7 linked regions of the Homo sapiens genome follow. The protein of the gene in region 1 purifies or fractionates together with the protein of each later gene. This does not show direct contact. Each region holds a gene or a part of one and is shown in the gene's direction. Other genes may lie near its edges. The genes, in order: TADA1, USP22, DR1, SGF29, HCCS, WDR37 and INSR.

Region 1 (3,500 bases):
GGTTAGATTTAAAATGCTCTGATTTGTTTGAATATAGTTCAATACTTCTCCTTCTCTTTCAGTTATTTTTAACACAGTGCCATACATTCTGTGATCACCAAGGTATTAATTGAATAGAATAAACTACTACGCAAACTACCATTATTCCCCTTAATCCATGTCTTCATTATTACCTTGTATTGGATGTGAATCTGTGATTATTTGTGCATGAATTAACTCTTTTTTCCCTTAACCCCTGTGGTATAGTTTTGGTGGCATTAATTTGGAGGATCTCAACTTCAGTACAGGAGTTTACTTTGTGTCTTGTTTGCTACTGTAATGAGTAATTTTAAAAAGTTTTTCTTACTCATAGCATAGATTCCAGCCTCAAAATCCTCTCTCAGGAGCCCAGCAATTTGTGGCAAAGGATCCCCAAGATGATGACGACTTGAAACTTTGTTCCCACACAATGATGCTTCCCACTCGAGGCCAGCTTGAAGGGAGAATGATAGTGACTGCTTATGAGCATGGGCTGGACAATGTCACCGAGGAGGCTGTTTCAGCTGTTGTCTATGCTGTGGAGGTTGGTTTGCTGTTGGCAGAAATAATCTTACAGGTTGAATGTGATAGGCTTGTGTGTTGTTTAAAGTCGGTATTGCAAGAAAAGAATCCAAATGTCACTCTGATTTCACAGAATTGTCATTGTTGAAGTTGTTTTCTGTTTTTTTTGAGACAGCATCACTTTGTCTCCCAGGCTGGAGTGCAGTGGCACGATCATGGCTCACTGCAACCTGGAAATCCTGGGCTCAAGCGATCCTCCTGCCTCAGCCTCTCAAGAGCTGGGAGTATAGACGTGCGCCACCATACTCAGCTAATTTAAAAAAAAAAAATTTTTTAGGGATGGGGGTCTCTCTCTCTTGCCTAACTGGTCTCGAATTCATGGGCTCAAGTGATCTTCCCGCCTTGGCCTCCCAAGGTGCTGGGATTTACATGTGTGAGCCATAGCACCTGGCTAAAAGTTGTTTTCTTTTAAGAGGAGAAACTCATTATAATCCAAATAGTTGTCTTCAGTTAATAGACTAAGCTTTTCAGAAAGGTTATTTATGGCATAACTCTTCTGGTTGATCTGATGTTTTGTCAACAGGGGAATGGTTTTTAAGGAAAGAAATGAAATTGAGAATCCTATAGATTAAAGTCACTTGTTTTTGCTGTGATACAGCACTGAAGAGTATTAGTCTTGGCATCTGAACAGCAGAATTCTTGTCTCTGCTCATGATTTCATTTGTCCATTCATTTTATTCATTTAGTTACTTGACAAAACTAATTTGATGGGGTCTATAATGCACGAGTATGGTCAGGTGACATTGGATTTTCAATTCTCTGAGCCCTATTTTCTTCATCTGTACTTCAAAAATAATAACAGTTGTCCCATGAAGTTATAAACATTAAATGAATTCTGCGTGCAAACCAATTTAAATAGTACAATAATGTCTTGATATAAGTGGATTTTCCTTGGTATAATTGAAACACCCTGCCTGATGCTGGCTCCCCTATTAATAATGGTAGCCTGGGACGAGTTCTGTCACTCTATTTTCACAGGCTTCCTCAACCTTTTCTTATATACTTGGCTCTCATGAAAGTGAAGAGAAATCAAGTACCTAATTTATTTTGTGCTTATTTCCTATATATCTGTTGTTTATGTGGCTTTTGAGAGAGCCAAGGTTCTTTTCACGCAAGGATTTTGGTTCCAATAATATCAGATCTTAAAACTTTTTGTCCTATTTTAAACAAAGTTTCAGCATAGTTTGTCTCTTTTTAAAAAGTCATTTTTGCTCATGCCTGTAATCCCAGCACTTTGGGAGGCTGAGATGGGCGGGTCACCTGAGGTCAGAAGTTCGAGACCAGCCTGGCCAACATGGTGAAACCTTGCCTCTACTAAAAATAAAAAATTAGCCAGGCTTGGTGGTGGGCACCTGTAATCCCAACTACTTGGGAGGCTGAGGCAGGAGAATTGCTTGAACCTTGGAGACAGAGGTTGCAGTGAGCTGAGATCGTGCTATTGCACTCCAGCCTGGGCAATAGAGCAAGAATCCATCTAAAAAAAAAAGTCATTTTTGTGTACTTCTTTTAAAGCCATCTAAAACTCATTTTTGAGAGAGAGGAGCCAATTTAGAGATGTAAAGACTTTTCAAATTTCATGTATAGCAAGCCCCTCTTAAAGAGAACTATTAATACATGAAAATAAGCATGTCCCCCTCTTTCCCATACCCTCCTACTCCTTTGGTGTGGCTCCGTGGCTCTTCATGTGAACATTCATTTGGTTCTAGCATATACTAACCTATTCTGCATCTCCATCTAAATGCCAATAAATGTTTTTTGGTCAGTGGAAGTTTTATGATTTGCTTTTAAAGAGGATATCATGCTATTTTTCTTTTTGTATGTTTACAGAATCACCTTAAAGATATACTGACGTCAGTTGTGTCAAGAAGGAAAGCTTATCGGTTACGAGATGGTCATTTTAAATATGCCTTTGGCAGTAACGTGACCCCGCAGCCATACCTGAAGAATAGTGTAGTAGCTTACAACAACTTAATAGAAAGGTAAATGAAGTTTCTTGTGATTTTCTTTCCATCTTTTGCTAGTTGTTTATACTCCTCTTATAGACCATTGTTAAATAATTGATTGTGTTTTCATAGGTTTAAGTACCTTTAATAGGAGTACAATTTTATTTTTTAAAGTCCTATACTTGCCTGAGATCTAGTGAATTATTTTGGTACTCCTTTTATGAGAAGTGAAGTTGCAGAGTTTGGCTTCTGCATGCGGGTTTAATGTGCTTGTCCCCCCGCCCCGACTTTCTTAGGTGCAGTGGAGTAGTGCATAGGTGGTGCATCCTGAGGGCTCCCGAGGGGCATCACCTGCCCAGTGGGGAAGTGAGCCTGCTTTCAGTTAGAGGCAGGGCCTGTGATTGTTGGGTCACAGCTGGGTGTCTTGGTGGTGGGAGGAGGAGGAGGAGTGGTAGATGTTTCTCCAGGCCCTCATCTGGCTCTTGTAGGCATAGCTCAAGATAGTGGTCTGTGCCTGGTGTCATCACTTGCTTTTGGCCTCCTGCTGTGCAGACATGGTCTCTCAGCTCACCTCTGGGATTCCTGTGTCGTCTTCCCATTGAGGGCTTCAGGATGTCTCTATGTCCTGAGTCACCCCTTTATGAAACAACCTAGATTACTTTCATCCCTGTGTTGTCTTTCTTATCCTTCCATCTCCTTTTGTCCTCCACTTCCCCCAAAGGGAATTTAGTCTGAATTTTAAGCCTTTGGGAAAGGAAAAAAAAAGTAGTAATGTAATTTTCTTTATGGTTACTGAAGTGACTTGAATTTCTTGTGATTTGCTGGACTTTGCGTATCTGGTTAGTTTGGGAGAAGAGAGGTAAAGAGATAACTGGGACTTGCAAGTTCAGAGAAAAAAGTATGTATGACTGGGAAGGGTGGCAGGGTGATTGGTGAAGTAACAGGAAGGGAAGGCAG
Region 2 (3,500 bases), on another chromosome or scaffold:
TGTGTCACGGGGGCCATTTTCTATAAGGAGCATAGACCGTTTGGGGCCTTGTCTCTGAGTATTAGAAACCGAGTTTGCTCTGAGCAATTTGGACCTCCTCGCTGTCCCTTAACTACTGAATTCCATTAGTAGGAGATTGTCTCAAGATTTAAATCCTGTATAAATATCGAGAGTAAATTTCCCAGTCTGCAAGTTTTCATTTTTTATATTGTTAAATAAATTTCTAGCAAGGAACTGGCCTTGTGAAATGCAGCATTGACTGTCCAGTGCAGGCCACCGGGCCTGGCCTGGGCACGCTCTGTGAAATGTGCAGGGGTCTCCAGTGTTGCCTAGGGTCACAGGCCCCAAGTTCTAGATGCAGCTGAGATAGACCTGTGGATTCAGAGCCTCTGACAGGGCCCATGAGTTTATCCTCCTCCCAAGTCCCTCAGTGACTGTGATGGTCTCCAGACTGGGAAGTCCTTGCTTGAGGAGCGCCCCTCGCCTTCCGAGTTCACACACACCCCTCCCCAGGGCCACCTTGGGAGCCAGGACACGTTGGGTGTGAGCACTGCTGCTCTTGCTCCTGCCCCATCCCACCTGAGTGTCACTGTGACAAAGGGCACAGCGGGGAAGGGATGTGGGAACGGCTTCCACCCCGGGTTGCCTCTGGAGCTGGGTGGGTGTCAGTCCTCACAGCCATTGTTTTCCCTCTGCTTCCAGTGGAGTCTCCACCACCATCGACCCCTTCTGGGACATCAGCTTGGATCTCCCCGGCTCTTCCACCCCATTCTGGCCCCTGAGCCCAGGGAGCGAGGGCAACGTGGTAAACGGGGAAAGCCACGTGTCGGGAACCACCACGCTCACGGACTGCCTGCGACGGTGAGAGGCCTGCACCCACACGGCGGGGGCGTGTCTCCTGGCCAGAAGGCTGTGCTCCATCAGGACCAAAGCAGGGCTCTTTCACATGCCCAGGACAGAGCCTGGGCAAAGGTGCAGCATGAGCCTGGATTGGCTGCAGTCTCTTGTGCTAGTTTGTCCTTTGTTTTGGCCAGATGACTCAATATTTCTGTCCCCCAGCTTCGCACAGCACCAGGTGTCAGTGTCAGCAGCTGCTACTCCAACCTCCGCATGTAAATGAACCCAGAGCCAAACTGGCTGCTCCCTTAGCCCTTGCACTAATCACCTACCCCGGAGTGTGAGCTGAGATGCGCCCGGGCCTCTCCCCATGGTCCACGGCCTTCTCTGCACATGATTAAAACTTAGTTGTGATGTTCTGTACTCTTAGGGCTGTTTTTGAAATTGTGCATGTACTGCTTCATTTGGGATAAGTAATAATATTTACAAAGTGATTTTTTTTTTTTTTTTTGAGACAGAGTTGTGCTCTGTCGACCAGGCTGGAATGCAGTGGTGCGATTTCTGCTCACTGCAGCCTCTGCCTTTCAGGTTCAAGTGATTCTCCTGAGTAGCTGGGACTACAGGTGTGCACCACCACGCCTGGCTAATTTTTGTATTTTTAGTAGAGCGGGGGTTTTACCATGTTGGCCAGGCTAGTCTCGAACTCGTGATATCAGGTGATTCACCCACCTCGGCCTCCCAAAGTGCTCACAGGCATGAGCCACCACACCTGTGAGTGATTTTTAAAAAAAAATGTATTTAAGTAGCTGTAGCATACAATTGTAAAGACAGCAGAAAACCTTCCTAAAATTTGTCTATTATTTTATAGCCTTTGTTTTATTTGCATCAATTAAAGGTAATGCAGAAGAGTCCTTGTTGAGTGGAAGTATCCCTTAGAAGAGGTACGAGCCTTTGGTTTCTGTCTGGCTGCATAGTCAGCACGACCAAAGTTGCATGTTTATTTTGTTTTTTGAGATAGGGTCTTGCTCTTTCATGCAGGCTGGAGTGCAGTGGTGCCATCATAGCTCACTGCAACCTCGATCTCCTGGGCTCAGCCTCAGTGTCCAGGGCTCAGCCTTGGTCTCCTGTCTCGGCCTCCTGAGTAGTTGGGACTATAGGTGTGTGCCACCATGCCCAGCTGATTTTGTGATTTTTTTTTTTTTAATTTTTTTTTTTTGAGACGGAGTCTCGCTCTTTCTAGAGTGCAGGCTGGAGTGCAGTGGCGCGATCTTGGCTCACTGCAACCTCCACCTCCCAGGTTCACGTGATTCTCCGGCCTCAACCTCCCGAGTGGCTGGGATTACAGGTGCTTGCTACCATATCCGGCTAACTTTTGTATTTTTAGTAGAGACTAGGTTTCGCCACATTGGCCAGGGTAGTCCCAAACTCCTGACCTTAGGTGATCCGCCTGCCTTGGCCTCCCAAAGTGCTGGGATTACAGGTGTGAGCCAGCATGCCCGGCCAACCAAAACCTTTTTAAAGAAAGTCTTTGCAGCTAAATTAAATTTAATCATAAATTCCAATAAAATGAAAGCTTTGCCAAAACAGCAGGCCATGAGGTAGAAACCACACTTCACAAACTACAATGTGTGGGAAGCCTGTGTTGTTAGGAGAGACATGATGTGGTGCTGACTCCCGGGAAGGTGGAGGAGAGGTAGAGTGCACCCGGGTCCCCACTTTGTATTGCAAGCAAAGGCTCCTTTTCGAGTCCTTTGGAGAGCAGATCACAAAGCTAGCAACGAAACAGGTGCAGCTTTGCCCAGAGGCCCCCTCGTCTTGCCCTAGTTAAGATGGCAGAATTTCCAGAGCATAAATAAGGGCTTTCCATACCTGCTTGTGAAAAGAGTGAATTTTTTGCTGGTGTTTCAGCTTCAAAATTTGGCGTGTGCTTTGTTGAATCATCTGTTCTGCAGGTTTTGTCAGTGGCAGCTGACACCTGTGCCAGACACGCTTCTGATGCAGCCCTCCTACCTCCTGCCTCTGCACGGTCAGGAAATTACCTTTCCCAGTCCTCTTGCCTTTTTTTTTTTTTTTTTTTTTTTTTGAAATGGAGTCTTGCTCTTGTTGCCCAGGCTGGAGTGCAGTGGCACAATCTCGGCTCACTGCAACCTCCATCTCCCAGGTTCAAGCGGTTCTCCTGCCTCAGCCTCCTGAGTAGCTGGGATTATAGGCATGCACCACCTCGCCCGGCTAATTTTGTATTTTTAGTACAGACGGAATTTCTCTTATGTTGGTCAGGTTGGTCTTGAACTTCCAACCTCAGGTGATCCACCTGCCTCAGCCTCCCAAAGTGGTGGGATTACAGGTGTGAGCTGCCGCACCTGGCCGACCTCTCACCTCTCTACATTAAACTGCTTATGTTGAGATCATTGTAGATTCACATGCAGTTGTAAGAAGCCTTTAGGTACCCTTTACCCCGGTCCCCCGATGGTGACCTCCTCAGCACTGTGGTGCGACGCCCTGGCCAGGATTCAGACATTCATGCGGAAAGTACCCAGCATCTCCAGTGCCTCCTCCCTCACCACCCACTCTGTAACCGCAGTCACCCTGGACTCCTGCATTTCCATACGCCTGACAATTCCAGAATGTCATGTCAACTGAATGATATAACGGAACCCTTTGAG
Region 3 (3,500 bases), about 73 Mb from region 1:
GCACAGATCTGTATATTCGCAATTGAAATAGGGAAAGTCTTTATATTCATATAAAGATAATTTATAATACAATAAGTCCTCAATGTTGTTGATAGGTTCTGGGAAACTGCGAGTTTAAGAAAAACAACATATAATGAAATCAATTTTACCATAGGTGAACTGATATAAATAAGAGTTAAGTCCCTATGGCATATATTTCTGGTTACAAAAACACTACCAAATTTCTAATAAAGACCCAAAACACTTCTAAAATTAAACATTGAGATTAATATGAGCTTTATATACATTTAAAAAGGATAAAAACAAGTAAGAATTGGCTGGACATGGTGGCTTACGCCTGTAATCTCAACACTGGGAAGTCGAGGTGGGCAGATGGCTTGACCTCAGGAGTTCGGAACCAGCCTGGGTAATATGGTGAAACCCGTCTCTACAGAAAAATTCAAAAATTAGCCAGAGGTGGTGGCTTGCACCTGTAGTCCCAGCTACTCGGGAGCCTGATGTGGGAGGATCCCTTGAGCCTGGGAGGTCGAGGCTGCAGTGAGCCATGATCACGCTACTGCACTCCAGTCTGGGCAACAGAGCAAAATCCTATCTCAAAAAAAATATATATATTATCCAGCCCCAAATGTTTATGGGGTTGTTATTGATAAACCCTGCATTAAACAATCCCACAGTCGGTGCTGCGGTGAGCCGTGATGGTACCACTGCATTCCAGCCTGGGTGACAGAATGAGACCCTGTCTCAAAAAAAAAAAAAAAAAGTAAAAATTATTTACCCAATATTTGGCGAATCAGTGAGTGACAGCAGTTGTAGTGCTAGTGGGTTAAATCAAGGAATAACTGTTGGGAAGTGAAAATTTTAAGGAGCACCTCCTACCACCATGCAGTTCAAAAACAAAAAATAAGAAATAAAGTGGGCTTGCTGAGTGCTTTCATACTGCATCATTTATTGTGCATTTGTATGATTATTATATACTTTACAAATTTTCGTTTTACAGTAATTTGTATTCATTCGTTTTTCAACCTGCTTATTTCAGTTCAGTGTCTTGGGTAGCTGGAGCCTATCCCAGCAGCTCAGGGAGCAAAGTGGGAGCCAACCCTGGACAGGATGCCTTTTCATCACAGGGCGCACTCACACGGCACACACACGCATACTGGGACCATTTAGCTGTACCAATTCACCTAACGTGCATCTTTGGGAATTGAGAAGAAACCAGAATACCCAGAGAAAACTCATGCAGATATGTGGAGGACATGCAAAATTCACACAGACAGTGGCCCTGGTTGTAAATAATTGTTTTTCATCAATGTTATAATGAAATTACAGGCCGGGTGTGGTGGCTTACGCCTGTAATCCCAGCACTTTGGGAGGCCGAGGCGGGTGGATCACGAGGTCAGGAGATAGAGACCATCCCGGCCAACATAGTGAAACCTCATCTGTGCTAAAATACAAAAAATTAGCCAGGCTTGGTGGTGTGCACCTGTAGTCCCAGCTACTTGGGAGGCTGAGGCAGGGGATTTCTTGAACCCAGAAGGCGGAGGTTGCAGTGAGTTGAGATCGCGACACTGCACTCCAGCCTGACAACAGAGCAAGACTTCGTCTCAAAAAAACAAACAAAAAAAGAAATTACATTAGTTGAGGACCTGCTGTATGTGATATGAACAATGAGGATCAACTCTTTTTGTAATAGTTTTTTTACATATGTTATTTCATTTGTTTATTTCCTCTGTGAGGGTAAGTATTGATAGTCCAGTCATAGACTGGTAACACAGGCACACCATTAAAAATAATAGACATACAGTATGCAGTATTTTGTTTTACTTATGAAACTCCGTATTTTATGTATGATGTATTGAGTATGAAGAATAGTACATACTGTTTCCTTTTAACTTTATGTTTCTTGCCTTTGTATATTTTATATGAATAGCACTTGTCACTAACATAGAAAGCAGTAGAGGTGGAAGAGGGAGACTTGCCAGAATAAGTTTTTAATGTGAATCAGAGATTTTTATTAGGAATTGGGAGTGGAAGGAGAGAGATAGTATTAGAAAGTATGTATGCAGCAAAGGATGGAGAAACTGTCCTTGTTGTTAAGGCATCTAAGGATGCTCCAATTACTGGGGAAAACATACCAGGCTCAAAATGGTCTGATTATGCAAATACCTTCTAATACGTTTGTTTCTTTTGTTGTGCCTATAAAAGATGCCATTAACTTCATATTTATGTCACTAATAAACTTCTAGAATCCATGTAGTAGGGTGTAGTAGTGTGGTTAAGCTATGAAGAACAATGGTATTTATTTCCAAAACACTTATTTGGTATATTACATAGGATAGAGTATGTTTTCTAAGCCAAATAGTGTTAGGTTTTCATGTGCAGTTGCCTTACACATATACTAGTAGCCCTTACAAAATTTCGTCTGTCTTTATTATAAACATGTTGTAAGTGAGGAAACTAAGATTCCAAGAAATTAAGTACTGTTGGCCCTCTGTGTCTGGGGGTTCCACATCTATAGATCGACCAACCATGGACTGATGGATTGAAAACATTTGGGGAAAAAACAAAAAATAACCCAACAATGAAATAGTATAAATTTTAAAAATAATATAACAATATTTATATATCATTTACATTATGTTAGATATTATAATCTAGAGATGATTAGCATCCTTGGATTTTGGATTTTGGTATCCTTGGGGTATCCTGGAACCAATCCCTGGCGGATACCAAGGGATGACTGTAATATAATAACATCTAACAAGTGAAGGATTTGAACCCCAATGTAAGTAATTATGAAAACTATTTTTCTTCCACTAGAACTTTTTTCCCCAAAAATACTCTGGAAATACTGGAACAAATACTAAAATAAATGACCTTTATTTGAAGATCTTTTAAAAAAATTATAAGCCTGCCTGAGGATAGCAAAATTGTGTGCTTTTGCAAGGTAATTGTAGAACTCATTCTAAGGAAGCAGAGGTAATGTCTGTTACTATTTTCAGCTCCCTTTTTCTGTCCACTGTTGTCTAAATGATTCACTCAGTGTTATGCAGAATATGAGAAGTTATTTTATAAAGTTGATTTGTGGTATAGGCTTTACATATGTCTTTTCTTTTGGTCAAAATACTAAAGAAAGCTTATAGAAAAAGTGACCTGGTGTCAGGTTTTAGTTTCATCCTTATCCAAATGTTGCAGAATTTTGGAATCTTTTGGAGTACACTTTCTCTTTAAAACAAGCCCATCACCTTTAGTATAGTGGTGAGTAAAAATAAAATAAAAACAAGGCCAAATTGCGTTTTTCTAAATTGCAAGTTCCCTGTTTTCCATATCCCAGTAACAAACCTACTGTTGTGCAAATAGGAAATAACATCTAGTAGCTACTTTAGCAATGGACGTGGCAAAATAAATAAATTAGTAGCTATGGCTCATTATTTAGGATTTAAATGAGCCATAACTACTATAAATGAAATTGAAGATCATGTTCTTAATTTGAAATTAAGGAT
Region 4 (3,500 bases), on another chromosome or scaffold:
TTTCGCAGCTCACAAAATTGTGCAACCATTAGCACGATCAATTTCAGAACATTTTTAACACCCAACAAAAATGCCCCATATCTTTTCCTTCCACCCTATTAATCCAGGCAAACAAAAACACTCTTTTTTTTTTGGAGACGGAGTCTCACTGTGTCACCTAGGCTGGAGTGCGGTGGCGCGATCTCAGCTCACTGCAACCTCTGCCTCCTGGGTTCAAGCGATTCTTCTGCCTCAGTCTCCCTAGTAGCTGGGATTACAGGCACACACCACCATGTCCGGCTAATTGTTTTTGTATTTTTAGTAGAGACGGGGTTTTGCCATGTTGGCTGTCTCTACTAAAAATACAAAAATTAGCTAGGCTTGGTGGCGGATGCCTATAATCCCAGCTACTGGGGAGGCTGAGGCAGGAGAATCACTTGAACTCGGGAGGCAGAGGTTGCAGTGAGCCGAGATGGCGCCACTGCACTCCAGCCTGGGTGACAAAGCAAGACTCCATCTCAAAAAAAAAAAAAGCCATTTTTCCCCTATTTGATATCTTTTCTTTCACAGATACAAGGGAGATGCGTATTGGTGCCTGTAGCTCACTGCAGGCTATCGGGCATGCTCTGCCACATTTTGCCCACGATACTCAGGGTTTATAGCTACACAAGGATCAGTTTGCTGGCAGTTGTGCACCGCACAGCCAGGAAGGAGTAGATCCCAGAAATTCCTTCCCAAATGGTATTCCTTTTAGACGTAACCTGGAGAGTAAGAGTCAGAAGATGCCGGCACTCATTGCTAAGTGAAAGATGCCAGTCTGAAAGGTTACGTGCTGTGTATTCCAACTGTAAACGAAAAGCAAAACTAGAGAGTGAAAGGATGAGCGGTAGCCAGGGCCTTGGGAGAGATAGGATGAAAGGGATGGATAGGTGGAGCACAGAGGATTTTAGGGGGTGGAACTCTTCTGCAGGGTACCATGATGGGGGGCACGCAACATGATGCGTTGTCCAAACCCATAGAACGGCAGAACACACAGAGTAAACCATCATGGGGATGGATGTAGTTAATTATCTAACAGTATTGGCTCATCAGTTGTTACAAACGCACCACTCTAATGCAAGATGTTAACAATAGGGGAGACTGCGCAGGGCAGAGCAGGTATACATACAGGAACTCTGTGCCATCAGCTCAGCTTTTCTGTAAACCAAAACTGCTCTAAGAAGAGTTTATCAATAAAATACATTGTAAAATAAAGGAAAAAAGGGCTGGGCGTGGTAACTCATGCCTGTAATCCCAGCATGTTGGGAGGCTGAGGCGGGTGGATCACCTGAGGTCAGGAGTTTGAGACCAGTCTGGCCAAATGGCGAAACTCCATCTCTACTAAAAATTAGCCGGGCGTGGTGGTACATGCTTGTAATCCCAGCTACTAGGGAGGCTGAGGCAGGAGAATCGCTTGAACCTGGGAAGTGGAGGTTGCAGTGAGCCAAGATCGCACCACTGCACTCCAGCCTGGGCGACAAGAGCGAAACTCCGTCTCAAAAAAATAAATAAAGGAAAAAAAAGATACAGGCAGATTACGCATTCCATTCAGTCATCCACAGTTAGAACAGTTTATCATCATCCCATACAACCAGGGTGTCCCTCAGACAGCTGCTGCCGAGTTCCCAGACTCCCATCTCACCCGTCAGCTTCCAAAAGCAGGCGTGGTCCTGACAGACACAGGGCTTCGCCCTTTCAGGCACCCAGTGTAACTGACCTAAGAGATGGCATTCTCTCTCTCTCAGCCTCTCTTGAGGTATGAGTACAATATTGGATTTCCCTCATTGCATAACCCATTTAATTTGTTCTGTTAACTCGGCTACTGTTTCTCCTCTCCATTTGTGATTGGTTTTCACCCAAACTTTTCCACCTTTGTAAGGGATGTTAGCTTTGGCCACTGTACCTGGTCCAGATTGCAGCGGCAGCAGTACTAGTCTAGCAAGTATCCCCCCCCAACCCCAATCCATTCCCATTTATATAGGGTGGGGTTACACAGGTATGGACTATTGGCTGTCTTGAGCACTAGGCAGCTAGCTAGCTGTGTTCACTGTTAACCTCATTTTGCAGGTTGAGGTAAAGGCGCAACCCACCCATCAGGCACTTAAAAATTCTCACATAAAGGCTAAAAAGCATAGTCATAATTTCTTTCTTAGGATCTGTCTCAGTTTCCAGCATCTGCAGTTGCAGCTCTGCTCCCAGGATGACTGATATGGGAGGAATTGCACCAGCATTCTTCCCCACCCCTTCTTCTCCACATCAATTGATCATACCTGTATGTGTCTATTTCTGGACTCTGAATTCTGTTCTGTTGATCTATATGCCAGTACCACACCATCGTGATTACCGTAGCTTCGTAATAAATTTTGAAATTGGGAAGTATGAGTTCTCCAACTTTTTTTTTCTTTTTCCAAGATTGGGGATAATCTGGGTCCCGTGAATTTCCATATGAATTTTAGGATGAACTTGTCAATTTCTGCAAAGAAGTCAATTAGAATTTTGATGGGGATTGCGTTGACTGTATAGATTGATTTGTCTCTTTGATAAAGGACTATCATTAAAGATATCACTTATGATTTAACTTTAATGCCTTCTTTTTTTTTTTTTTTTAACAGTCTCACTCTGTCACCCAGGCTGGAGTGCAGTGACATGATCTCAGCTCACTGCAACCTCAGCCTCCCGAGTAGCTAGGACTATACGCACATGCTACAATGCCCGGCTAATTTTTGTATTTTTAGTAGAGGTGGGGTTTCATCATGTTGGCCAGGCTGGTCTTGAACTCCTGATCTCAAGTGATCTGCCCACTTTGGCCTTCCAAAGTGCTGGGATTACAGGCTTAAGCCACTGCACCAGGCCCTTTAAGGCCTTTTATAATGCTTTTGCATTAGTCAAAGGAGAAAATCATCTTGAACTCCTGAATTTGGATTTAGAAAATGAGGGCCATAGCCGGGCGCCCTTGCCTGTAATTCCAGCACTTTGGGAAACCGAGGCAGGTGGATCACGAGGTCAGGAGTTCAAGACCAGCCTGGCCAAGATGGCGAAACCCTGTCTCTACTAAAAATACAAAAAATTAGGCCGGGCGCATTGGCTTACGCCTGTAATCCCAGCACTTTGGGAGGCCGAGGCAGGCGGATCACGAGGTCAGGAGATCGAGACCATCCTGGCTAAGACGGTGAAACTCCGTCTCTTCTAAAACTACAAAAAATTAACCAGGCGTGGTGGCGGGCGCCTGTAGTCCCAGCTACTCGGGAGGCTGAGGCAGGAGAAAGGCGTGAACCCGGGAGGCGGAGCTTGCAGTGAGCCGAGATCGTGCCACTACACTCCAGCCTGGGCGACAGAGTGAGACTCCATCTCAAAAAAAAAAAAAAAAAAAGAAAATGAGGGCCGTATTTTGGGGATGGGGACTCTGGCCTGGCTGGCAGGGTACCACAGCAGCACAAAGGGCCACCGTCATGTCCTGCTGCTCTTTTCCTTACAGGAAGAGC
Region 5 (4,262 bases), on another chromosome or scaffold:
ATGAATAATTTTGAGGAATTGTGACAGACAGAGTCATAGGGAATGATGGAAAAGACAGAGAACTGTGGGAGGAATGGAACTGTGGGAAACAGAATTTTGAGAGATACAAGAATTTGTAGGAAAGAATAAAGGCTTGCTGGGAAACCCAGCAAATTTTGGGAAAAACAACAGAATTACGGGCAAGACAGGGAATTGTGGGACAGAAAAGTGAATTGTGGGAGACACAAGGAATCATGGGAGAAACAAGAGAATTGTGAGCAAGACAAGGAATTGTGGGACAGAAAAATGAATTGTGGGAAGGAATAGAATTTTGGGAGTGACATGGGATTGTGGGAGAAATAAGGAATTGTGGGAGAGACAGAAGATTGTGGAAAGAACTGAGAATTGTGGGAGACAGAACTGTGGGTAACAAAACAGAATTGCGGGAGTGAAAAGGAATTGTGGGAGGGACAAAAGAATTGTGGGTAAAGAGAGAAGTTGAGCTGTGATAGTTGAAATGGAATCCTTGGGCTATCCTGTAGGCAGTTCTGATGCTGGGATGGCCCTTCTGAGTTGTCCCCTTTGGGGCTAGGGGCCTGGACTTATGTGCCCTTGCAGAGACCCTCATAGGATGCAGATCGTCCCCAAGGAGGGGAAGTGATTTTGTGTGAGGCAATTCTCTTAGGCAGAGGACAATTCCTGGAGACTCAGCTGAAAGCTGTGAGCCCCCAACACTTTCTGCACCAGGGGACATCTGGACGTATTTCACAGAGCCACTATAGTTATATAGAAAGATATATGTTTCTTTATTAACACTTTAAGTAACAAGATCAAATTACCTTAATTTCAAAGTAGTGGATGGATGATATTTTGAGACAGGCACAACAACCATATGTGACATAATTTATCTGTAATGTGTATTAGTGCCACATACAGCTAATAGTACTAGGATTTATTGCCTACATCCCTGATGGAAGAAAATGCTAAATTTCTGTTGGAGGTAAATGAAAATACAGACATTCAAAATCACATACCCAGTTAAGAAGAATTTAGCAGCCAGAACACTGTCTTGTTCACTTTTGGATCTCCACCACCGAAGTTATGGGCACCTACTAACGTTTCTTGAATCATTGCTACAATTAAAACCGATAAGATTTAAAAAAAAAACAAATTTAAAAACTCCTCCAAAGCACTCCTTCTGCCGCATAAAGCATACATAGTAGAGCTCTTCACTCTAGGGAAGCCTCTGGAGCAGACAACCTTCCCTGCCACCGCCACATTTTGAAAAAGGCTCCTGGCCTGGAGGGGCGGGCCCAGAAAGCGGCCCCCGCAGCAGTTACAGGCCGGGGCGAGGAGGGGACGGAACCCGCTCTCCGTGATTGACGGAAAATATTACTCTTCAGCCCGCCTCCCGCGTGCCCGGAAGTCCCGCCTTCTAAAAAGGAAGTAGGGGTGCGTGAGAACGCCGGCGGTGACCGCAGCCACAGCGGTGACCGAGTGAGAGGAAGGCGGCGGCGGCGGCGGCGGCGGCGTGAAGTCACTGCTGCTCTGGGTTCGGGTTGGCGACTGAAGGCGGTACCGGCCTCCCGGAACAGCCCGGGGGAGGGCTTAGGTGCAGAAGGGCAGGCTGGCCGCGGCCGGTTTGGTCTGGGGACCACGGGCTGGAGCAGGTGGGCAAGCGCCGGGACGGTGTGGGGAAGACACTTGGCAGCTTCTCGACCTCTGGTGTCCCTTCGTTTCTTCGAATTCCTATTCATGCGCCGCACCCTTCTCGGACCCCCAGCCCCTCGCTAAGGCTCTGGGGATGGGGGTCAAGTCTAGGCTCAATGGACCTCCCCTCCTCCACCCGGGTCACCACTCCTCGGAAATCCTCGCCCCACTCCCGCCTCAGGCCTGTACCTCCTGGCTGTGACGTGGTTTCTCAGCGACTGCCTCACCTCAGTCCCAAAATCCTCACTGCCTTAGATACATACGTGCCCCCAGAGGTTGGCCTGGGTTTCACAGTATTTCCCTAAGGGGGCAATATATTAAAGCTGTCCTTCGAAGTTAGTACCCTGCCTGGTAGATGCCCATGGGATGACAAAGAGGAGGAACAAGGGTTGACCAGATTAGGACTAACGAGAGAATAGTCTGAGTCCAGAGACATTAATCTGTCTCTTTGTTTTGGCAGGTGGAAATTTAAAATTGTTTACAGTCAACACTGTTTCCAGCCATGGGTTTGTCTCCATCTGCTCCTGCTGTTGCAGTTCAGGCCTCAAATGCTTCAGCGTCCCCACCTTCAGGATGCCCGATGCATGAAGGGAAAATGAAAGGTAATCGGCCCTTTGCCTAGAAAATAAAAACAAAAGATAATTCACGGCTGGGTGCGGTGGTTCACGCCTGTGACAGCACTTTGGGAGGCCGAGGTGGGTGGATTGCTTGAGCTCAGGACTTCGAGACCAGCCTGGGCAACATGGCAAAAACCTCCCTCTACAAAAAAATACAAACATTAGCCAGACGTGCTGGTGGGTGCCCGTAGTACCAGCGACTTTGGAGGTTGAGGTGGGTAGGATCGCCTGGGAGGCCAAGGTTGCAGTGAGCCAAGATTGTGCCACTGCACTCCAGCCTGGGTGACAGAGTGAGACTGTGTCTTAAAAAAAGTCTGGAAAGCCTCTAAAGGAAGAGGCAGTGTAGTATGCTGCTGAGGCTGGTAGGCATGGGAGTCAGGCACCCTGGGTCTGGTCGTTATTTTGCGTCTTATTGAGGTTTGTGACTCTAAACAAGTTAACTCTGTTAGCCTCAGTCTGTCATCTGTAAGATGAAGATATAATAATGTTTCACAGGCCTGTCATGATGATTGAGGTAGTACATGAGAACGTAGTGAGTACTCTAAACCAGCCCCAACTTCCCAAAGTTTACTTGTGCCTACATCAGTGGTTCTTAACTGGAGGGGGGCAATCCCCCCTTCCCACAGGGGACATTTGCCAATATCTGGAGGCATTTTTGGTTGTCACAACTGAGAGGAAAGTGAATAGAGGGCAGGAGTGCTCCTAAACATCCTACAATGTACAGAACAGCCCCCCAACAAAGAATCAGCTGGCCCCAAATATCAAGAGGGCCAAGGTTGAGAAACCTTAGTCTAGATCTAGCTGTCTTAATAAATAACTTTTGCTCGTATAGCCATTTCAGTATTTTCGTATATAAAAGTAAGCCATCACTTAACGGGCTTGCTGTCCATTCTTTAGATAAGAAAATGAAAATGGAAAAGCTGTCTTTCATTTTTAATTCATTCATGTCTACTTTAGATTTTTTATATTAAAGTGTGGCTTGAATCAGTAAGTCGTGAAGGGCAGAAGCAACATGGTGTGCTTACTGAGTACTAATGTTTGCGCTGTTATTCATTTCTTCAGTCAGCCAGCCTATTCTGAGAGGTCACTGCCCATTCTGTACCAAGCATTGCTGGATTTTGTTTGTTTCTGCACGAGAGAATAACATCATACAAAATGGAGCTTTGCCTGATAGAGCTTACATTCTCATCTTCATAAGCTATGTGGTCTTACGACTTCATAAGCTAAGTTTTCTCCCTATTTTATAGTCAAGGAAACTAAGACTTGGAGTAACTGATGCTCCAAGTCACATAGTAAGTGGCAAAGCCAGCAAAAGTTCTGTGACCTTGGACAAGGACAGGCAGTGTTCTTCTGGGGTTTCTTTGTACAGGAAGAATTGAGACAGATCAGCCAAAGCAGGTGTGCTCCTGTTCTGAGTGTCCTCAGGGAGATTCTAGAACCCTTACTTTGGTTTTATTTCATTTGCTGTATATCTTGGAGAGCTGCCAGACTTACTACATTAATAAAGAATGTGGGTGTCTATAGGAGATCGAAGGGGCTACTGGTTATATGACGTGAAAAGTTGAAATGTTATTTTCTTTGTAACACCCAGCTGGGATCTATGACTTGGAAAGGATTGGTGCTTTCAGTGGTAGAGAGGAAAGGCATAGCAAGTCTTCCTTCACCCCTAAAGTGGGCAGTGGCACAGGGCACCAGGAAATGAGGGCTTGGGAGGAGAAGTGCAGGGAAGGAAGTGAAAGCAAACTCAGCTTTTTCATGTGTATTGCTGTAGTTGCTGCTGCTGCTGCCTGAGGCCAAGATTCCATTACATGAGCAGCTGTCTTCTGTGTCTCAGCTCTCCAAGTGCCTGCTCATTCTCTGAACCAGTTTCCCAGTCCCTCACTAATTGGGATCAGCATCCTGGGTCTTTGGGCATAGCCCTTGCTATTGCTCATCTCATTAGGCTCAGACCTTCCC
Region 6 (3,500 bases), on another chromosome or scaffold:
AGTGTCTGTGTCCTCATCTCTTCTTACAAGGATGTCAGTCCTATTGGAATAGGATCCACTCTCCTGGTCTCATTTTACCTTAATTATCTCTTTAAAGCCCCTTTCTCCAAACAGCCCCATTCTGAGGTCCTGGGGTGAGGACTTCGACACAGGAATTTGGGTCCACAGTTCTGCCCATAGCAGCCCCTTCCACTGTTCCCTCCGCAGTTTGTTCACACAGCACACACCGGGCATCACATCCTGCCGACAGCCGTCTGGTGATTTTGCATCACACGGAATAAAACCTGGTGTCCTTTCCAGTCTCCCGGGATTACAGGAGCTGTTCCCGACTTTGCCTCCCGTAGCTGTTCCGCACATGGCGGGAATGTTGTTCCTCAGCCCGGGCGAGCCTTACTTAACCTTTCCTTTCCTCACATCCGACTCACGTGCGACCTCATCAGAGAGTCCCTCCTCAGTAATTCTGTGTGAAATAGCGCCCCCATCCAGCTGCCCCTTGTCCTGTTTTATTTTACTTCATAGAAGTTACTACCACCTTACTCTGTGTCTCCATGTTGATTTGTGTTCCCGTGCTGCTCTGCATCCATGTGATATGTGTTCCCGTGCTGCCCTGGGTCCCTGTGACGTGCTTTCCCTTGCTGCTGTGCGTCCCTGTGACGTGCGTTCCCTTGCTGCTGTGCGTCCATGTGACATGTTTCCGTGCTGCCGTGCGTCCCTGTGACGTGTGTTCCCGTGCTGCTGTGCGTCCCTGTGACGTGGGAACCCTTGCTGTTGTGCGTCCCTGTGACGTGTTCTCGTGCGGCTGTGTGTCCATGTGACGTGTTGCCGTGCTGCTGTGCGTCCCTGCGACGTGCGATCCCGTGCCGCTGTGCGTCCCTGTGACGTGCGTTCCCGTGCCGCTGTGCGTCCCTGTGACGTGCGTTCCCGTGCTGCTGTGCGTCCCTGTGACGTGCATTCCCTAGTAATGTATATGTGCTCATGACGTGCCTGTGTTAGGCCATTCTTGCATTGCTATAAAAAATACTTGAGACAGGGTAATTTATAAAGAAAAGAGGTTTAATTGGCTGATTCTGCAGGCTGTACAGGAAGCGTGGCACCAGCATCTGCTTGGCTTCTGGGGAGGCTTCAGGGAGCTTGGAGCTTTCACTCACAGCAGAAGGCGAAGCGGGAGAAGGCGTCATGTGATGGAAACAGGAGTAAGGCGGGGGCGGGGGGTGCCCCACATCCAAGCAGCCAGATCTCTTGAGAGCTCACCCACTATTGTGAGGTCAGCATCAGGCTATGAGGAATCCTCCCCCATGAGCCAGACACCCCCACCAGGCCCGGCCTCCAACACAGGGGATTCCAGTTCAGCATGAGATTTGGGCTGGGACAAATTTCCAAATTATCAGTTCCAGTACTAGTACTTGTGTATATATGACATACCTCTCCATACTAACGGGTGTGTGTGTGTGTGGTCTCTCTCTTTTGCTAGAACAGAAGTTCTCTGAGGGCAGGGGCTTTACCAGGGGTCCTCACTCCAGAGTTCCTACCTGCTAGATTGAGCGTAGTTTTGCATGTGTGCATGTCAGAAGCCGTCTGTCCTCTTCTGCATTGTGTAAGCAGCACCTGGGCTGGGGGTGGGGACTGGCACTCTGTCACCCCCTGATAAATATTTGTTGGATGAATATACAGATTTTCTTACAGAGCTGGCTGTAATGTGTTTGTTTTAGCCTTGGCCTTTGACAGGGGGCTTGATGTTACAAAGGAAAATAGACTCTTATGACTATAGCAATAGAATTCCAAGTATATTTTAAATAGGCTCTTGAGAATGAAAATGCCTTTTTGTAATGTGATAAATTACTGACTTTCATTTGTATTTGGTTAGTTTTATATTGCATTTCTACTAGTAACTGATGAAAGCTTAAATGTTGAAAATCATTTTATTTGCCATTCTGTTGATGCGTGGAAATAAATGGTAGTTCGGTTGACAATGTTGTGGATTCCACTTTTTTTTCTGTACGAGATGGTCGTAGAGTTGATGGGTGTTCACGGGCAGCAGTTATGGGTCAGAGGAGGACATACTCATCACTGTGGCCAGCACCAGGCTCCTAGTGGTGACCATCATGATGGATATGTCCTCAAGAGATTAATGAGAACCATCTATTTTGTAGCTATGTCAGAAGAAACTCAAGATTTCCAGGAAATGTCTTTCTTTTCTGGCCTTCCCTTTGGCAGCAGATATCTGGGGAAGATGAAGTAGAGTGCTCTGACAAGGACGAGCCCGACCTCGATGGGGATGTGTCCAGCGACTGCCCCACCATCCGCGTCCCACTGACATCCCTCAAGAGCCACCAGGGCGTGGTCATCGCCTCCGACTGGCTGGTTGGGGGGAAGCAGGCTGTGACTGCCTCCTGGGACCGGACGGCAAACCTGTACGACGTGGAGACGTCCGAGCTCGTTCACTCTCTGACAGGTGCCTGGGTTCTCTGAGTCCGCCGCCTCCTGGCTGTGCATGTTAGTTTATGTCCATGGGTTATGTCTGACCTTGCCACTTACTTCTTGACCAGAATGAGTCTCTGTGTTCTTGGCTCTTCTGTGGTAATTTTTGGAGATTCTTTCTATTAATAATAGAACTATTGGTAGCTAAATTTATTTTGTCTTCAGGGGTTTTAAATTGTAGCATGTAGTATCTAGATATTGGACATATGGTAGTTGTATTAGTTTTCCATTGCTCTGTAACAAATTTCCACAATCTTAGTGTCTTAAAACGACAGGAATTGACGGCCTCATGGTTTCCCAGGTCAGTAATTCTGGGCCCGTGGTAGCTGCTCTTCTCCCTGGGCCCTCAAAGACCTAAGTGAGGGTGCTGCCTGGTCAGGACCTCCCCAAGGCTGCGGTCCTCTTCCAAGCCTGCTGGTCATTGGAGGAGCTCCTTCTTGCGTCTGGAGTTTGAGGCCCTGTCTTCTTGCCAGCTGCCAGCCGGGGCTCCTCTGGGCGTGCAGAGGCTGTGTCTGGCCCTGGGGCCCCTGCACAGGGCTTGCCTTTCCCACACAGCAGCCGCTTTCCTCTGCAGCTGGAGCTCCCCTGCTGCTCTGAACTCTCCAACTTCTGGGACCCTTTTTAAGGGCTAGGCCAGACCACCCAGGACAATATTCCCTTTGATGAAGTCAAAGTCAACTCATTTAGGGACCTTAATTACATCTGCAAAATCCTTTTTGCCTTATAATGTATCATAATTACCAGAAAGATAATCTCATCCTATTTACAGGCTCTGCCCTAACTGAAGGGAAGGGTGTTAGGCATGTACGGGGTGGGGGTGGCTTGGGGCCATCTTGGGATGCTGCCTGCTGAAGTTGCTTCTGCGAATCTATCTCTAAGTGCATTTCCTGCATGAGCGTTAAAGATTGTATTTGACTGAGGACCCATAGCGTTGTATCATTAGAAGGTATTCTAAGCAAAGAATCAAGATTTAAGTGGTTCTCACATTCAACCTGTTAATTTGCCTGACCTTCTAACTGGTA
Region 7 (2,325 bases), on another chromosome or scaffold:
TGTGTGTCCATTAGACACGGCTGATGTGTGTGCAAAGTATCCATGCGGAGTTGATGCTTTGGGAATTGGCTCATGAAGGTTCTTCTCAAGGGTGCGAGCTCATCCCCCTCTCTCCTTCCTTCTTATTGACTGGGAGACTGTGCTCTCGACAGATTCTTCTTGTGTCAGAAGTCTAGCCTCAGGTTTCTACCCTCCCTTCACATTGGTGGCCAAGGGAGGAGCATTTCATTTGGAGTGATTATGAATCTTTTCAAGACCAAACCAAGCTAGGACATTAAAAAAAAAAAAAGAAAAAGAAAGAAAAAACAAAATGGAAAAAGGAAAAAAAAAAAGAACTGAGATGACAGAGTTTTGAGAATATATTTGTACCATATTTAATTTTTAAAGTCTCTGGTATTAGCCTCATAAGTTATTGACTATTCCCCGGGGTTGGCGGGGAGTGGGGACATGAGTTGGTCTGCCTGTTGTGGGGCCGGGAAGGGGAGGGAGTCAGGCACAAGTGGCCTCTTTGTTTGGTCTTAAAGGCATCCATTTCTGGGAATGAAGCCATGTTCGCTGCTAACACTTTTGGATGTTGTGAGGCCACGTGGAGTGTGTGAGAGACTAGGTTTTATGGATGGTCTGGTTCAGGTACCAGGTCTGCTGGAAGGTTCCTGTTCGGATAAGCTGGTAGCTACCTAGCTCTGAGCCTGCCTTCAAGAACACCTGTGTTCATCCTCTGATTCTCTGTGTGTACCTCTTGTGGCGTTTCCTCTCCCGGGTGTGAACATCCTAACCGTTATTGTGCAAACCCAAGAACGTCAGATCCCAAAGCACAACAACCTGGATGGACTTTGGGAACATCTAAGCAATGTAAGAGAGAGGTGCACTGAGAGTACGTCTTGGTCCCCTCCACCCTGAGAGCATCTGACGGTCCTCAGTACTGAACTCCCGGAAGCTGCTCTGAGCCCGGTGACCTCATCTGGGCCAGGTGTGGTGCCTGAGCTGAATGCTCAGGTGCTTACAGTGTTGCAATCCCTAAGAGAGTAGAGTCTGGAGGAGAAACCGTGAAAAAGACCTTACACACCACCAAGAACTTCCGAATGGGCGTGAATCCACCGTTTCTTCTCTTTGCAAAAAGAACCACCACAGCTGCTCAAAGAACACAGTGAACTCATCACTTTGGTTCATCAAAAAATCATCGCCCATGCGTTATTCCTGAGTGCATTTTCTTACAACTTTTTGACTGCTTCCTTTTCTTCTTCTCTTAAGAGTTGTGGGCTTAAGAATGGGATAGAGTCATAATGGCAACCTCCAAGCCCTCTCAATTCTTGATTAAGAACACAGGTAGACATGAATCCCAATTGTCTATTGCTATCTTATTTATATGATTCGGGAAAATACAGCATGTAAAAATATTGCTGAGGAGCCTCAGTGATTGGGTACAAGAAGCAAGAGTACAGAAATTATTTTTGCCAAATTTATTTTGTAAATATGAGGGTCTGTACCTAAATTTAAAAAAAAAACACGTAGAACTAGGTATTTTGTTCTCTTCTTAGTAAATTTGTAGTGGTTGTATACTACACTAGCTGCAATTTTCACATTTTTCTAATTCAGAAAGGTTTTTCTTATATTAGGGGAAAAAGTATTTATTTTAATATATAAAATCACTCTGAAAATCACTCTCATAAAAAATGGAGCGCATGTAAATTTTTATCAAAGAAAAATAAACAGGTGAATGGGGGATAGTGATTTTCTTTTTTCAGCACAGTCTACCTCAGTGTATTGTTAAGATGTGATTCAATCATGGACATCTTTGAGATTTCAGAATTCTACCTGGAACCGGTCTGAATCAGGGAACGTGTGTATCAGCTGATTCGAATGCCAGGGACCAGTAAGAATTTTGAGGGAGGGAGTTGGGATGGAGAAGGTATGGCCTTTATGCGAGCATAGATCCTTTTCTTCCTGGCTGGTAATATTCTTCTCTGAATTTAATCTTCCTTTAAAAAAAAATCCTCCATCTATTGTCACTATGTTCCCCAAACATAAACTAAGTTCCAGGCTGTCATGATGTATCTGATATATGGGGTAACCCAGCAAGGTGTACCTTCCTTTGGTGAGAGATGGCTGCCGGGGCAAAGACGGGCTTTGATTCAGAGCAAGCATTCCCACCTGTTCCATGGAATCCCCCTGAAGTGAGCACAAAGGTGCCCTGGGCTCCCTGATGGTTTATGCCCACTCCTTTCAGGCTGGTGATGCACCTTACACACAAACACCTAATGCAATGTCTTTTTAAATTCTCCAAGTGGGATGGGAGCATGTGAGGGAAATTCCAATCCAAAACCC

What was found.
Region 2: the proteins of TADA1 (region 1) and USP22 purify together in Homo sapiens (affinity purification with mass spectrometry; 4 studies listed by BioGRID and IntAct, with this or other methods). This does not show direct contact.
Region 3: the proteins of TADA1 (region 1) and DR1 purify together in Homo sapiens (affinity purification with mass spectrometry, with the first as the bait; one large-scale study listed by BioGRID). This does not show direct contact.
Region 4: the proteins of TADA1 (region 1) and SGF29 purify together in Homo sapiens (affinity purification with mass spectrometry; 6 studies listed by BioGRID and IntAct, with this or other methods). This does not show direct contact.
Region 5: the proteins of TADA1 (region 1) and HCCS purify together in Homo sapiens (affinity purification with mass spectrometry; 3 studies listed by BioGRID and IntAct, with this or other methods). This does not show direct contact.
Region 6: the proteins of TADA1 (region 1) and WDR37 purify together in Homo sapiens (affinity purification with mass spectrometry, with the first as the bait; one large-scale study listed by BioGRID). This does not show direct contact.
Region 7: the proteins of TADA1 (region 1) and INSR purify together in Homo sapiens (co-immunoprecipitation; one large-scale study listed by IntAct). This does not show direct contact.

What each region holds. Positions count from the first base shown.
Region 1 is NC_000001.11:166,859,265-166,862,764, reverse strand, and holds part of TADA1 (transcriptional adapter 1), read left to right. Parts: intron 1-352; coding exon 353-562; intron 563-2,427; coding exon 2,428-2,579; intron 2,580-3,500. UniProt on the Homo sapiens protein: Probably involved in transcriptional regulation.
Region 2 is NC_000017.11:21,008,512-21,012,011, reverse strand, and holds part of USP22 (ubiquitin carboxyl-terminal hydrolase 22), read left to right. Parts: intron 1-702; coding exon 703-861; intron 862-3,500. UniProt on the Homo sapiens protein: Deubiquitinase that plays a role in several cellular processes including transcriptional regulation, cell cycle progression or innate immunity.
Region 3 is NC_000001.11:93,366,407-93,369,906, forward strand, and holds the end of DR1 (protein Dr1), read left to right. Parts: 3' UTR 1-3,087; downstream 3,088-3,500. UniProt on the Homo sapiens protein: The association of the DR1/DRAP1 heterodimer with TBP results in a functional repression of both activated and basal transcription of class II genes.
Region 4 is NC_000016.10:28,581,420-28,584,919, forward strand, and holds part of SGF29 (SAGA-associated factor 29), read left to right. Parts: intron 1-3,493; coding exon 3,494-3,500. UniProt on the Homo sapiens protein: Chromatin reader component of some histone acetyltransferase (HAT) SAGA-type complexes like the TFTC-HAT, ATAC or STAGA complexes.
Region 5 is NC_000023.11:11,109,870-11,114,131, forward strand, and holds the start of HCCS (holocytochrome c-type synthase), read left to right. Parts: upstream 1-1,462; 5' UTR 1,463-1,649; intron 1,650-2,149; 5' UTR 2,150-2,191; coding exon 2,192-2,291; intron 2,292-4,262. UniProt on the Homo sapiens protein: Lyase that catalyzes the covalent linking of the heme group to the cytochrome C apoprotein to produce the mature functional cytochrome.
Region 6 is NC_000010.11:1,101,385-1,104,884, forward strand, and holds part of WDR37 (WD repeat-containing protein 37), read left to right. Parts: intron 1-2,217; coding exon 2,218-2,452; intron 2,453-3,500. UniProt on the Homo sapiens protein: Required for normal ER Ca2+ handling in lymphocytes. Together with PACS1, it plays an essential role in stabilizing peripheral lymphocyte populations.
Region 7 is NC_000019.10:7,114,090-7,116,414, reverse strand, and holds part of INSR (insulin receptor isoform Long preproprotein), read left to right. Parts: 3' UTR 1-2,325. UniProt on the Homo sapiens protein: Receptor tyrosine kinase which mediates the pleiotropic actions of insulin.